Linked DNA regions of Homo sapiens. The protein of the gene in region 1 purifies or fractionates together with the protein of each later gene. This does not show direct contact. Each region holds a gene or a part of one and is shown in the gene's direction. Other genes may lie near its edges.

Region 1 (3,500 bases):
GACTAGTCTAATTGGTTCAGCATCTTCCTTTGTTAATGTGATGATCATTATTTTGCCCTGCTTTGTATGTTGCAGTAAATAAAGTGCTGTGTAAATGCTAATTATTAGTGATTATCAACTGAATTATTTAATCTAGCGTGAGAGATGTAAAGGGCTATGGAAGTTCAGGATATTTGTCACTGACCAAAGTCTATGATTAGTGTATGTTTTTAGATTGTAATTAAAGAAGACCGGTATAGTTAGACCAAGAAGTTTAAAGGCCTTTCTTGCAGCTTTCAAAAGTGAAAACCTTTTAAAATTGTCTTATTTATGAATAAATCTTTAAAAATATAATCCATTTCATTGCAGTGAAATAAATAAATAAAAACATAAACCATTTCAGTAAAATGCATCAGTGTCTAGTTTTATTTATTTATCTTTTTTTTTTTTTTTTTAATTTTTTGAGACAGAGTCTCACTCTGTTGCCCAGGCTGGAGTGCAGTGGCGCGATCTCGGCTCACTGCAACCTCCACCTCCAGGGTTCAAGCGACTCTCCTGCCTCAGCCTTCCGAGTAGCTGGGATTACAGGCGTGTGCCACCACGCCCAGCTAATTTTTTGTATTTTTACTAGAGATGGGGTTTCACCATGTTGGCCAGGCTGGTCTCTCAAACTCCTGGCTTCAAGTGATCCGCCTGCGTTGGCCTCTCAAAGTGCTGGGATTTACAGGCCTGAGCCACCACACACAGCCGATTGTCTAGTTTTAAATACGTGTATCTGCATATTCTTCCTTTCTAAGGTAAAAACAGTGCTTTAATTATATTCTGCCTTAAGTTGTTTGGGAAAATAGGCAAAAGAAACAATGAAAGAATTAGTGGTTTTCTGTTTGTTTTTGCTATTTTATGGTATATTATGTAACAGCTTGTAATGAAGCCTTTATCATATTATAGTTGGTTGCTGAGTAATTAAGTTATGATAGACTCTCATAGTTTGGGGAAGAAAATCAGATCCCTGCCTCTCACATACCTAGTGTAGTGAAGATAGTTTTTTGTGTTTTAGTATCCAGATTGGCAGGATGCAAGGAAATAAGCATATAGTTTGGTGAAGTACATGTAAATTGTTACAGCCTTTCTGGAAGGCAGTTGGCAATATGTAACAGACCTAGAACTGCCCTAGCAATCTTGTTTTTAGGAATTCTTTTTTTTTTTTTTTTTTTTTTTTTTTGAGACAGAGTCTCGCTCTGTCGCCCAGGCTGGAGTGCAGTGGCGCAATCTCGGCTCACTGCAAGCTCTGCCTCCCGGGTTCACGCCATTCTCCTGCCTCAGCCTCCCGAGTAGCTGGGATTACGGGCGCCTGCTACCACGCCCGGCTAATTTTTTGTATTTTTTAGTACAGACGGGGTTTCACCATGTTAGCCAGGATGGCCTCAATCTCCTGACCTGGTGATCTGCCCACCTCGGCCTCCCAAAGTGCTGGGATTACAGGCGTGAGCCACCCGTGCCCGGCCCTTTTTTTTTTTTTTTTTTTTTTTTAAAGACAGAGTCTCACCGTGTTGCCCAGGCTGGAGTGCAATGGCACGATCTCGGGTCACTGCAACCTCCACCTCCCGGGTTCAAGCGATTCTCCTGCCTCAGCCTCCCAAGTAGCTGGGATTACAGGTGCCTGCCACCACGCCCGGCTAATTTTTTGTATTATTAGTAAAGACGGAGTTTCACTATATTGGCCAGGCTGGTCTCGAACTCCTGACCTCGTGATCCGCCCGCCTTGGCTTCCCAAAATACTGAGATTACAGGCGTGAGCCACGGAACCCAGCTGGAATTTATCCTTTTTTAAAAATGTGCAAAAATAACTACACAGATGTTCATTATAGCACAGTTTATGATAGTGGCAGATATCTCGGTGTCTTAACAATTAGAGATTGGTTGAGTATATTATGGTATAACTGTGCAATCGAATATTACACAGTCATTGAAGTTGTTAAAGTTTTGTTTTTTTTTTTTTTAAGAAATGGAAAAATATAGAAAAGTACAAAGGCAGCCTACACCCATATCTTCTCTATATGTAGAATTAACTTATGTTAATTGTTAGCATTGGTAGTCATATTTGCTTCCAAACTAAAGGACTCTTTGATTACCACCTGGCCACGCCCTCCATCTCCCCTTCCCCAGACGTAACACCGTCATGGACCTGGTACATCCTTCCAGTTTATTTTAAATAAATGTGTTTGTATTGTTTTATGCTTTTTAACCATTCATTCATGTTATCATGTTTGTTGTATAACGTTTTCCATTCAACATTAGGTTTTTAAACTTCTTTCATGTTGGAATTTATATAATTTATTCATTTTAACAGCTATGTAGTAATCCATTATATGAATATATTATTTTCTTTTGGTAAGGATTTAGATTCTTTCCTATTTTTTGCTATTATAGACAGCGCTGAAGTTAACATTCTTCTTTTTTTTTTTCCTTTTTCTTTTTCTTTTTTGAGATGGAGGAGTTTCACTCTGTCGCCCAGGCTGGAGTGCAGTGGTGCAATCTCCGCTCACTGCAAGCTCCGCCTCCCGGGTTCATGCCATTCTCCCGCCTCAGCCTCCTGAGTAGCTGGGACTACAGGCGCCTGCTACCACGCCCAGCTAATTTTATTTTTGTATTTTTAGTAGAGTCGGGGTTTCACTGTGTTAGCCAGGATGGTCTCAATCTCCTGGCCTCGTGATCCGCCCGCCTCGGCCTCCCAAAGTGCTGGAATTACAGGCATGAGCCACCGCGCCCGGCCTTAAGTTAACGTTGTTATACTTGTCTGTTTTTACACATATGTGACTATTTCCCCAGCGTTAGGGTGCTACTGCTTATCAGTTTCACTTCTAGCTCTGTGCCTTATTTTTCTAGTTACTGTCAAAGTTAGTGTCTTCTGTTATGTAAAAATGTTCGTAATTTATTAGTAAAAACTACATTGTTCAGCACCCAGCAGATGGTGGGTGCTAAAGTGGAATGAAAAGAGTTACCAAACAAGGAATACAAAATAATTCCTATCTTGGTATCATTTAAAGTGAATCTATGCTAGAAAGATTCCATAAAGAAAAAAAATGAATCTATATACCTACATATACAGGGAATCTGAAGTAATTTTTAAAAGCAATGTCAGAATGGTTTTCTTTTCTTATGGCCAAGTAGGCTTTTACTGGACCTGACCTTCCTGCATATAACTGGACAAAATTTTTAAAAAACAAAGACCCGAAGGCACTGGAGGATGAACGGGAGCAGTCAGATTCTGAAAGAGAGTTGACACATGTAAGAAGAGACAGCATGAAATTAGTTTTTTATTTTTACTGCTTTTAGCTAGAGGACAGGCTGAAGTGGGCACCTGACAGGCTGGCTTAAACCTTCATAGAAAACCTAAGCAGTGGACAGCATTTGGGTCAGCCACAACCACTGAGTCAGTGGAATGTAAGGGGAGGAGGAATCTTGGAAGGGAGAGATCCAGAGAGTGACAGCCTAAAATTCTGTAGATAAAATAAACTGTG
Region 2 (3,296 bases), on another chromosome or scaffold:
CGGGCTCTGGCTCCAGGGCCCACCTCAAATCCAGCACGGTCTTATCTTGAGATCCTAACTGCAGTGCCTCTGTAGAGATTCTGCTTCCAAATAAGGTCACGTTCAGGGGCTAGTCCAGGGAGGGCAGGGGGTGCTTCACCTTTAGCCCGGCTCTGTACACATGGGCAGGGGCAGGTATCCTGTCCTGTCGAGAAAGGCTCTGACACTGGAGGCCCCAACCTTTCTCCTCCCTCCTCCCTCCTCCCATCTCCTTTCCATAGAGTGTCCCCTTGGCTGGCATGGGCCGGGCTGCCAGAGGCCTTGTAAGTGTGAGCACCATTGTCCCTGTGACCCCAAGACTGGCAACTGCAGCGTCTCCAGAGGTACCTATCCCTCCAAGGGGAGGGGTATGGGCAGACGCTCCTGCTCCGGCCCCTTCAGCCTGTCTCTGGTATGTTACAGTAAAGCAGTGTCTCCAGCCACCTGAAGCCACCCTGAGGGCGGGAGAACTCTCCTTTTTCACCAGGTAGGTGCTTCTGTGGGAGCTGGGGCCAGGGCGGGAGGAATCCCCCTTCTCTCCCGCACCCTTCCCCTGTGAGGTCCATCTCTGCCCTTGTCCCCTGCCAGCTCCCTGCCTTAGAGGAAGCGGGACCAGCTCTCCCCACTGTCTGCTTTGGGGACCCTGGAGCAGAGCCCAGGGCCTTCGAGTGCCCAGCCTCTGTTGTCAGCATCCCCCACTGGAGCTCAGAATGCAAACTGGGCTAGATGAGATCCCAGGGTGGGGGCAGGAGGTTTCCTCATTCTGTCACCCAGGCAGAAGTGCTGTAGTACAGTCAGCTCACTGCGATCCTCCCGCCTCAGCCTCCCAAGTAGCTAGGACGACAGGCACGTGCCCCCATGCCCGGCTAATTTTATTTCTTACTGTTTTTTAGAGATAGGATCTCACTATTTTGCACAGACGAGGTGCACAGTCCTGGGCTCAAGTGATCCTCCCACCTTGGCCTCCCAGCCCCCATGCCCAGCATCCAGCTGTGTTTTATTTGGCTTACATAATTTTTAAAAAGTTAAAATATATCAGCAGCATCTAAAAATCAGTAACATTCACATTTTTTTAAACTTTTTTTTTTGAGACGGGGTCTCACTCTGTTGCCTAGGCTGGAGTGCAGTGGTGCGATCTCAGCTCACCACAACCTCCGCCTCCTGGGTTCAGGCAATTCTCCTGCCTCAGTCTCCTGAGTAGCTGGGATTACAGGTGCCCGGCTAATTTTCATATTTTTAGTAGAGACAGGATTTCGCCATGTTGGCCAGGCTGGTCTTGAACTCCTGACCTCAAGTGATACGCCCGCCTAAGCCTCACAAAGTGCTGGGATTGCAGGCATGAGCACCACGCCCAGCCTTAAAAACCTTTTTAATGGCTTCTCTTAAAATATCAGGCCAGGCGTGGTGGCTCACGCCTGTAATCCTAGCACTTTGGGAGGCCGAGGCAGGTGGATCACTTGAGGTCAGGAGTTCAAGACCAGCCTGGCCAACATGGTGAAACCTGGTCTCTACTGAAAATACGAAAATTAGCCAGGCGTGGTGATTCGAGCCTGTAGTCCCAGCTACTCGGGAGTCCAAGGCAGGGGAATCGTTTGAAGCCAGGAGGCGGAGATTGCAGTGAGCTGAGATCATGCCACTGCACTCCAGCCTGGATGACAGGGCGAGACTCTGTCTCAAAAAAAAAAAAAAAAAATCAGGAGATGGGGCAGCACGGACCTGCATTGTACGTCATGACTGCCTCTGCTGTTCCCTGCACATGTCTTAAATGTTGCCCCATCCCCACCTAGTCCATTTTGCTCATAACATTCCCTGTGTGGTCCCTGGAGGCACCTGATTTAGTGCTATCTATGCCGGGTAGAGGGAAGCCCCTCCAGTGCTACCCAAGCCCTGAGCCCACCCAGCAGTCCCCCACTTGGGGCTTCTCTCCTGTCTGCAGGACCGCCTGGCTAGCCCTCACCCTGGCGCTGGCCTTCCTCCTGCTGATCAGCACTGCAGCAAACCTGTCCTTGCTCCTGTCCAGAGCAGAGAGGAACCGGCGCCTGCATGGGGACTATGCATACCACCCGCTGCAGGAGATGAACGGGGAGCCTCTGGCCGCAGAGAAGGAGCAGCCAGGGGGCGCCCACAACCCCTTCAAGGACTGAAGCCTCAAGCTGCCCGGGGTGGCACGTCGCGAAAGCTTGTTTCCCCACGGTCTGGCTTCTGCAGGGGAAATTTCAAGGCCACTGGCGTGGACCATCTGGGTGTCCTCAGCCCCTGTGGGGCAGCCAAGTTCCTGATAGCACTTGTGCCTCAGCCCCTCACCTGGCCACCTGCCAGGGCACCTGCAACCCTAGCAATACCATGCTCGCTGGAGAGGCTCAGCTGCCTGCTTCTGGCCTGCCTGTGTCTGCTGCCGAGAAGCCCGTGCCCCCGGGAGGGCTGCCGCACTGCCAAAGAGTCTCCCTCCTCCTGGGGAAGGGGCTGCCAACGAACCAGACTCAGTGACCACGTCATGACAGAACAGCACATCCTGGCCAGCACCCCTGGCTGGAGTGGGTTAAAGGGACGAGTCTGCCTTCCTGGCTGTGACACGGGACCCCTTTTCTACAGACCTCATCACTGGATTTGCCAACTAGAATTCGATTTCCTGTCATAGGAAGCTCCTTGGAAGAAGGGATGGGGGGATGAGATCATGTTTACAGACCTGTTTTGTCATCCTGCTGCCAAGAAGTTTTTTAATCACTTGAATAAATTGATATAATAAAAGGAGCCACCAGGTGGTGTGTGGATTCTGAATCATGGACTTAGGTCACTGCTAGGGCTTAGCAGGTGTGGCTTATCCTGAAACAGAAGTCACAACGGCATCCTGGAGCCAAGTCCTGTTCCCTGCTTGTTTAATCCAGTGCTTATCAAACTTTAATATGCCACAGGTCACGAGGAGATCTTGTTAAAATGCAGATTTGGGCCTGGGGTGAGGCCAGCAATTCTGCGTTTCCAACAAGCTCTCTGACGATGCTGATGCTTCAGGTCCCCAGACCACACTTCTTGTCTTTCTTAGAAACAGGGTCTCGCTCTGTTGCCCTGGCTGGAGTGCAATGGCACGATCTCGGCTCACTGCAATTTTGACCTCCTGGGCTCAAGTGATTCTCCCACCTCAGTCTCTCAAGTAGCTGGGACTATAGGCACATGCCACCATGCCCAGCTAATTTTTAAAATTTTTTTTGCAGAGAAGGGGTGTCACTGAGTTGCCCAGGCTGGTCTCAAGCTCCTGGCCTCAAGTCAACCTCCTGCCATGG
Region 3 (3,500 bases), on another chromosome or scaffold:
ATAATTGGGAAACATTATTGGTAAAGAGATGAAAATTAAGGCTTAACTATAGAGTTAAAAACTGGGGTGATACTTTTATGTTTTTTTTTTTTTATTTTTTGAGATAATCTCACTCAGTTAGATGTAACTGCAGGGACACCATGAAAAGATTATCCAACTCTCCTTGTGAATTCTAAGGAATATGTGTCATAAATGCTGAACAAGCAGAGACCATTAATCCAATGCCAATGGTTGAAGTATTCTAGGTTTTTCTGTTTCTCGCCAGGGTTTGTATTTCCAAGCCAACTGCTTCATGAGACGGGAAAAGAGAGAGAGAGAGAGAGAGAGAGAACACCAGATTACTTCAATCTTCAGAGAGTACATTGTGCATTTATTAAAAGTATGAGAAGGTCCAGAATATCATATCTTTTTTGATTTGGATGAATCACATGGTAGACTTTGGAATAACTATAGGAATAAATGAACTGTGTATCTTTCAAGTATTCAAAGCTGCATTTTTATAGATATTTCGTGATTATACTAAGTTGAGTTGAGCAAGTCTATTTGATTTATCATTATCACATGTTGAGGGAACTGTTTCAAATTCAATTTGTTGTACAAAAATCATTTAAAGTTTTTTTTTTCTGCACATGTGATCCATTGTGGGTCTGTTACCCTCCATTTATTAACTGATTATTATTCTCAGCTTGTCTCCAAGGAACTCAAACCCAATAAGGAATTATAATTTATTGTGAAATAGGAATAGTTTGGTCTCTAACAACTGAAGTCTTGTATAATAGACTAAAAAAAAAATAGCCTACTGGGGAGAGGATAAATTTTGAATTCCAGTTCTGCTGTTATAAACTGGGGAATATGAGCATGTTATTTAAATTTCCCAATGCTCTTTTTCTTGATAATTAAAATAGAATATTTGAAAGCCACCGTGAGTCTTCAAGACAACAGCTTATGAACAATTAACCAACACAGTGCCCAGAATATAGTAGGGGCCTAAGAAGAATTAGTTTTCTCCCCTCGAAGGGACGATAACCATTATAGTAGACATTTTGATTTGAATCCCAAGGAAATAAGAGATTAAAACATGTGCTATTTTCTCCTTGGTTGGATGAAGTGATGGAATGTTTACATATTCTATTTTTATTTTGTTCTGTGAGTTTCCTAAGCTGTGCTTGTCATATGCCAGACATTAGCTAGTCACTGAGGCTAAAAAAGATGAATAAACAAAGTTTATTTCCTGAAGGAGGAGGACACAATTTCTTGAGGGAAACAGATAAGTAAACGAGTAATTAATAGTCAGCATGAGATCTACCATACTAGAGGTATTGGTTCACAGGTAGGAGCACCATAACTAAATTTTTATTATCTAGATATCAAATATCAAGGCTCATGGTGATTTCCAGTTTTACCAGAAGTGGCCAAATGGCTGGCAGACAAGAGGCTTCGTAAGAAAGCATTTACTTTAAAGACTTTATTTCTCTTTAGGATTTTGCCTTCAGATTCATATGTTCAGAAATTTAGAGACCTACAGTTGACAAGATTTGAGATTTTTGTCTAGTTGGCCAATGGATAATTAAGGAGAAAAAAGGATTTTTCAAGGGAATTAGGAATTTACAATAGTTGGGACAACATATTTTCTACCTGTAGATAATCATCCTGGAAATTTAGATGATCAGATTGCTTGACTAGTCTTGGAGCCAGACAAGTCAATTCATTTACATGACTCAGATGTGCTCTGTCATCAATCTCTAATACTCTGATAGAGATACTCCATTCCTGGCACACCAGACAATGGACACTAGTCCTAGTAGGGCACCTTCTCTCTTGGACTGTGGATGAAAGTTCAGTGTTTCCTCTGACACCTCTTTTTTTCTTTACCTTCATGGTAGACTAGCTCCTGTCTGATTGACACATTCTTTTCTTAAATGTTTTAATATCTGCAATCAGATAATGAAGTTAACCAAATATGTCCACCATGCTTTATTTACAGAGTGTGCCTTCTTTCTTTGGAGACTGTTGTGTAATGCTCTTTATCTTTACTGATTGTGTTTTGTTTTCTGTATAGGTATATGTCAACCTTGTATTCTCACCCTGATTTTCCAGAGAAAGGGCCAGAGGAGATTAATGAAGAACTAATGAAAAATGTTAGCCACAATCCCCTTTTACTTCTCACACCACAGAAAGTTAAAAGATATGTTGAGTCTTTATGGAAGAAGAAAAGCTCTGGACAACCTGTCACCTTTACTGATATCTTTGGGATGTTAATAGGAGAAACACTAATTCATAATGTAAGTTACAGTTCAATCTACACTGCTTTTATAACAAGTAGACAGAACATATTATAATATTATATTTTAAATAAAAGAAAATGTAATACATTTTATAAAAGTCAGTGGACTCTACTTATTTGTCCAACTATGCGTACTGAGCCCATTCTCCCCACCAGAGATTATAATTCTTCTACCTTTCAAACTAGTGCTTACTAATTCATTTCAATGATGTAAAGATTTTGAATGTGTGAGGAAGTGCTTTTGTATTCCTTTTCTCTGGAAAAAAAAAAAAAAAAAAAAATTCACATTTTAACCCTTAACTGCCCATTCCCTCCAAGAATGGTAACATTTTTAGATGAGGAAGAATGAAGTTTGCCTGAATAGAGTCAAGAAAGGAAGGGGATCGCATAGAACAGACTCGCTTGATGCATGATTGCATTGATGTTTCGTTGAAGATAAAGCAGAGGAGCGCCTGTGACAGGGAGTCCAGGGGCTAAGTTTCTTCCAGGCTCCACAGTTGCTAATTCATTCTCCAGTTCAGATGTAGACATATAATCTAGAGTTATGATTATTTTTTAAATGAAGATAGTTACTTCCATAGAGCTTATTTTTTGTTGTTCATTCAGGACCTAGTAATTTCTAGAAGTAATAAGACTTATTTTTATTATAAAGTTATAAGATTTTGATTGGAAGTACTATTTTGAATAGCATTCTTTCTGTGTCTGTTTATAAATTTAAAGTCATCTTTTTCTTTCTTCTGTGGACAGAGAATGAATACTACTCTGAGCAGTTTGAAGGAAAAAGTTAATACTGCACAATGCCCTTTACCTCTTTTCACCTGTCTTCATGTCAAACCTGACGTTTCAGAGCTGATGTTTGCAGGTATGCTGTTTCCTTTCTCAGAACACTTCCTGGAACCTCTGAATTGCAGTTTCCCATGGTTTTCCTTAGAGGAAGGTCATAAGCAATTTCAGTTGTTTATTTTAATGTATTTTCTGTAACATAAGACTTTGAAGATATAAGAAAATATTAAGTGAGATGATTTCCTGGTTGTAGAGAATATTCCATGAAACTAGTAACTAATGTATTTTCATTTACTATAGTAAAATAAAAATCATGGATACAATCAATCAATACAGTCAATTAATTATCCACTCCTCAGTAACTTTTGACAAAATAATATGCCTAGTGCTTTTAGGTAGTGCAAATTGTTTTACTTGTTGGTTATCTTTTCAT
Region 4 (3,500 bases), on another chromosome or scaffold:
ATACAAAACAGCACTCAACATTTCTTATCCATCTTTGGTAGCATGTGTTGGCATTTCTGCAGAGTAGATTCCTAGAAGTAGGATCGTTATGTCAAAGGGGATGCACTTATAAAATTTTTATAGATACTGCCCCAACACCCCAACATTTCCTCCAAAGATTGCACCAATTTATATTAAAGTGCCTAGTTGTTGAACTGTGACACTCCCTCGAAGTAAATTAAATTCAGATGTTAAATATAGAGATTAATTATGGAGAAAGGGAGCTCTATTACCAAGTCTTTCCACCTAAGCATTATTTTTCTGTTTATTAATGACTTTTTAATTACCCTTTGGTAGAATTTTGTAGTATGTGTGTATATTCTGCATATTTCTGAAATTTATTTCTAGATATTTGAGTTGCTTATTTTTTTCCCTTTTGACTGGGATCTTTTACTCCCTTAGTTCATTGGTGATCATGTACATGAAAGCAGTCATTATAATATAGATAATATAGATACAGATATGGATATGTAATGCATATATATAGTACATGTGTATATATACTTGCTATGTATATTATATATTATTTTTACATATTAATTCTGGTACCAACCATGTTTTGAGTCTATTGCCATTTCTAATGGTTTTTCAGTTGATTTTCCTGGGCTCCAAATTTATGTAGGCAGTAGTGCATATTGGTTGAGAATGTGGGTTCTGGACACAGTCTGCCTGGGTTCAAGTTTTGCCACCCTGCTTAAAAACTTAGTTTTCTAAAGTATAAAATGGGCTTAATAGTCATACTTCTTGGAGGCTTTTTATGAGGATCGATAGATGAGATGCTTAGAACAGTGCCTGGCACATAAGTGTTCTGGAAACATTTACAAATAAGTCGATCTCTACACAGTATATGACCAGCTCTTTGATACTACCAATTTTATAGCTGAGGACCTGAGACCCATAGAGGTCAAAAGAAGCCAATTATTTGCTTAACAAGCATTGAGCATCTTCTATGCATAGTTCTGTGCTGGGTCTGTGAGGGATACCAAAGATAAATCAGACTGAATCTACTAAAAAAGGATTCAAGAGTCCAATCAGATCGTAAGTCAAGGACCATAAACAAGGCCATGGAAGACAACAGGCATCATAGAAAAACATGAGCTTTGAAATTTATCCTTGTCCTTGAATTTCCTCTTGCAACTTGGTAGCATCAGTTTTGTCAACTAAATGGGATTAATTCCATTGCTATTTTGAGAGTTGCTATTTTGTTCAGAAGAAATAGATGCAAGGGTCTAGCACAACATTGGGATATGTAGTATGGCCTTAATAAGCGGTAGCTATAAATAGATGAGTCTGAAGTAGAAAGTGACAAATGAATGCCCTGGAGGAAAAGTTCATAGAAAGGGCCCCAGTACTTGAGGGGAAAAAAAGAGATTCTTTCTGGTTGGAAAGGTCAGGGTTGGGTTTTGGAAGAGGTACCTTTTGAGCTAATTCTTGATGGTTGAGTTAGACAGTGTGAGGAGCAAAAATGCAGCTGGGAAGATAGTTGGAACTGGATTGTGAAGAATCTTGGCAAATAATTTGGACTTTATTCTACAGTCATGGGGGAATCATTGAATAGTTTTACAGAAAAGAGTGCCATGTTCTGACTTATGCTTCAGAGTATCAGATGGATGCTGATCAAGTAAAACATCACCATCATTTGCACAGTGTCCTATGCCTGACAAAGGGCTATCATAGCTGTTGTCTCTTCATCGTCACAGTCTCACTGTGTTGCCAGGCTGGAGTGCAGTGGCATAATCTGGCTCACTGCAACCTCCGACTACCTGGTTCAAGCGATTCTCCTGCCTCAGCCTCCTGAGTAGCTGGGATTACAGGCACGTGCCACCACACCCAGCTAATTATTGTATTTTTAGTAGAGATGGCGTTTCACCATGTTTGCCAGGATGGTCTCGATCTCCTGACCTCGTGATCCGCCTGCCTCGGCGTCCCAAAGTGGTGGGATTACCGGTGTGAGCCACCGCGCCTGGTTGAAGTATCTTTTATTTTCCTGTTTCACAGAGAAATAAAATAGGCTCAGAGAGATAAATGATTTTTTTATACAAATTGATCAAATTAGTGAGTGTTGGGACGAGAATTGGACCTAGATCTTTTGGCTTGTGTTGCTCATTCTGGAGGTCAGAAGCTCTGTTAGGAGCCTGTTGCAATCAGCTGGCTTGGAGGTGCTGAGGAGGAACTAGAGTGTGGCAGGGAGGAAAGCTTGACAAGGGGAAGGCGAGGGGAAAAGAGAGGCATAATAAAAGAGGCCGTAGAGGTGGGATTAGGAAGTGACTGCGTGGAGGTGAGAAGTTAGAACTAACTAGTGTTTTAGACTGAGTTGCCTGGGAAAGTGGTCGTGCCATTCATATAGTGGATTTGGGAAACACAGAACATTCTTGAGCACTCATCCCCTGACTCACACCCTGGTATTGTGTCTTCCACACCCGTGGATCCTTTAGTTTAATTTTCAGAAGTTGCACTAAAATATAACTATTGTTGTAGCTCCATTTATTCATCTAAGCCCTAGTTCATGTTCATTTCTCAGAGTCTGTGTCCTTTACTGTCTTCCCTGAGCCCTACACTCTAGATATGGTAACAGGTAGAGAATTCTGTTTAGGGAAGGGTTGTGTTTCAAAGAGCACATGCAAAGCATAGATAAGAACTGGATATGTATTGTTCTGTAGAATCGGAGCTGTAATGGTGTAACTGTTATTAGGTCAGCTCATAGGTGCCAGTCAGTCCACAGTGTCTCTGGAGTGTGGGCCTCAGCCTGTGACATCATGGGCAACTGGAATTCTGGAAAAAGACAATCAGAGTGGTAACATAGACATAGCCCTCTTGTCTCACCCTTATGATTGGGCTGGGAGTAAAAAAACTCCTTCCCCAAACTAGCAGTGAAAAATCCTATGTTTTTATATCTGTTCCCCTAAGGCCATTTATCTTTTATCTTTTTTTGTTTGTGTGTTTGTTTGTTTTTGTTTGAGACAGGGTTTTTCTCTGTCAACCAGGCTGGAGTGCGGTGGTGCGATCACAGCTCACTGCGGCCTCGACCTGCTGGGGCTCAGGCAATCCTCCTGCCTCAGCCTACTGAGTAGCTAGGACTACAGGAACATGCTACCATGCCTGGCTAATTTTTGTATCTTTTGTTGAGACTAGGTTTTGCCATGTTGCCCAGGCTGGTCTCAATCTCCTGGGCTCAAGCCATCCACCTGCCTCAGCCTCCTAAAGTGCTGGGATTACAGGCTTCAGGCACCACATCCAGCTGGCCATTCTTCTTAAAACCAGATCAGTAAGGTGAAATAAATTATAGGTGCCATTGGACACCACAGGCTACTGTGCAACAATTGGTTAAATCTTTTAAAAAAATGTTTTAAAAAGTAAACAAGAACATACTCCTGAATGACTACATAACTCCATGTGGTTGGATTTTCAGCAAAGCAGTCATCTAATCTTGAATGAAGGATCTGATCCCAGCTCCTGTGTCC

What was found. The genes of interacting proteins can lie anywhere in the genome.
Region 2: the proteins of RTN3 (region 1) and NAGPA purify together in Homo sapiens (affinity purification with mass spectrometry; one large-scale study listed by BioGRID and IntAct). This does not show direct contact.
Region 3: the proteins of RTN3 (region 1) and PLA2G4A fractionate together in Homo sapiens (co-fractionation; one large-scale study listed by BioGRID). This does not show direct contact.
Region 4: the proteins of RTN3 (region 1) and PGAP4 purify together in Homo sapiens (affinity purification with mass spectrometry; one large-scale study listed by BioGRID and IntAct). This does not show direct contact.

Annotation. Positions count from the first base shown.
Region 1 is NC_000011.10:63,723,000-63,726,499, forward strand, and holds part of RTN3 (reticulon-3), read left to right. Parts: intron 1-3,150; coding exon of another isoform or gene 3,151-3,167; exon of another isoform or gene 3,168-3,500. UniProt on the Homo sapiens protein: May be involved in membrane trafficking in the early secretory pathway. Inhibits BACE1 activity and amyloid precursor protein processing. May induce caspase-8 cascade and apoptosis.
Region 2 is NC_000016.10:5,024,344-5,027,639, reverse strand, and holds the end of NAGPA (N-acetylglucosamine-1-phosphodiester alpha-N-acetylglucosaminidase precursor), read left to right. Parts: intron 1-260; coding exon 261-362; intron 363-441; coding exon 442-505; intron 506-1,954; coding exon 1,955-2,162; 3' UTR 2,163-2,796; downstream 2,797-3,296. UniProt on the Homo sapiens protein: Catalyzes the second step in the formation of the mannose 6-phosphate targeting signal on lysosomal enzyme oligosaccharides by removing GlcNAc residues from GlcNAc-alpha-P-mannose moieties, which are formed in the first step.
Region 3 is NC_000001.11:186,936,949-186,940,448, forward strand, and holds part of PLA2G4A (cytosolic phospholipase A2), read left to right. Parts: intron 1-2,059; coding exon 2,060-2,282; intron 2,283-3,031; coding exon 3,032-3,146; intron 3,147-3,500. UniProt on the Homo sapiens protein: Has primarily calcium-dependent phospholipase and lysophospholipase activities, with a major role in membrane lipid remodeling and biosynthesis of lipid mediators of the inflammatory response.
Region 4 is NC_000009.12:101,480,674-101,484,173, reverse strand, and holds part of PGAP4 (GPI-N-acetylgalactosamine transferase PGAP4), read left to right. Parts: intron 1-2,667; exon of another isoform or gene 2,668-2,811; intron 2,812-3,448; exon of another isoform or gene 3,449-3,500. UniProt on the Homo sapiens protein: Golgi-resident glycosylphosphatidylinositol (GPI)-N-acetylgalactosamine transferase that catalyzes the N-acetyl-beta-D-galactosamine transfer from an UDP-N-acetyl-alpha-D-galactosamine to the 4-OH-position of the first mannose of the glycosylphosphatidylinositol (GPI) of a GPI-anchored protein (GPI-AP).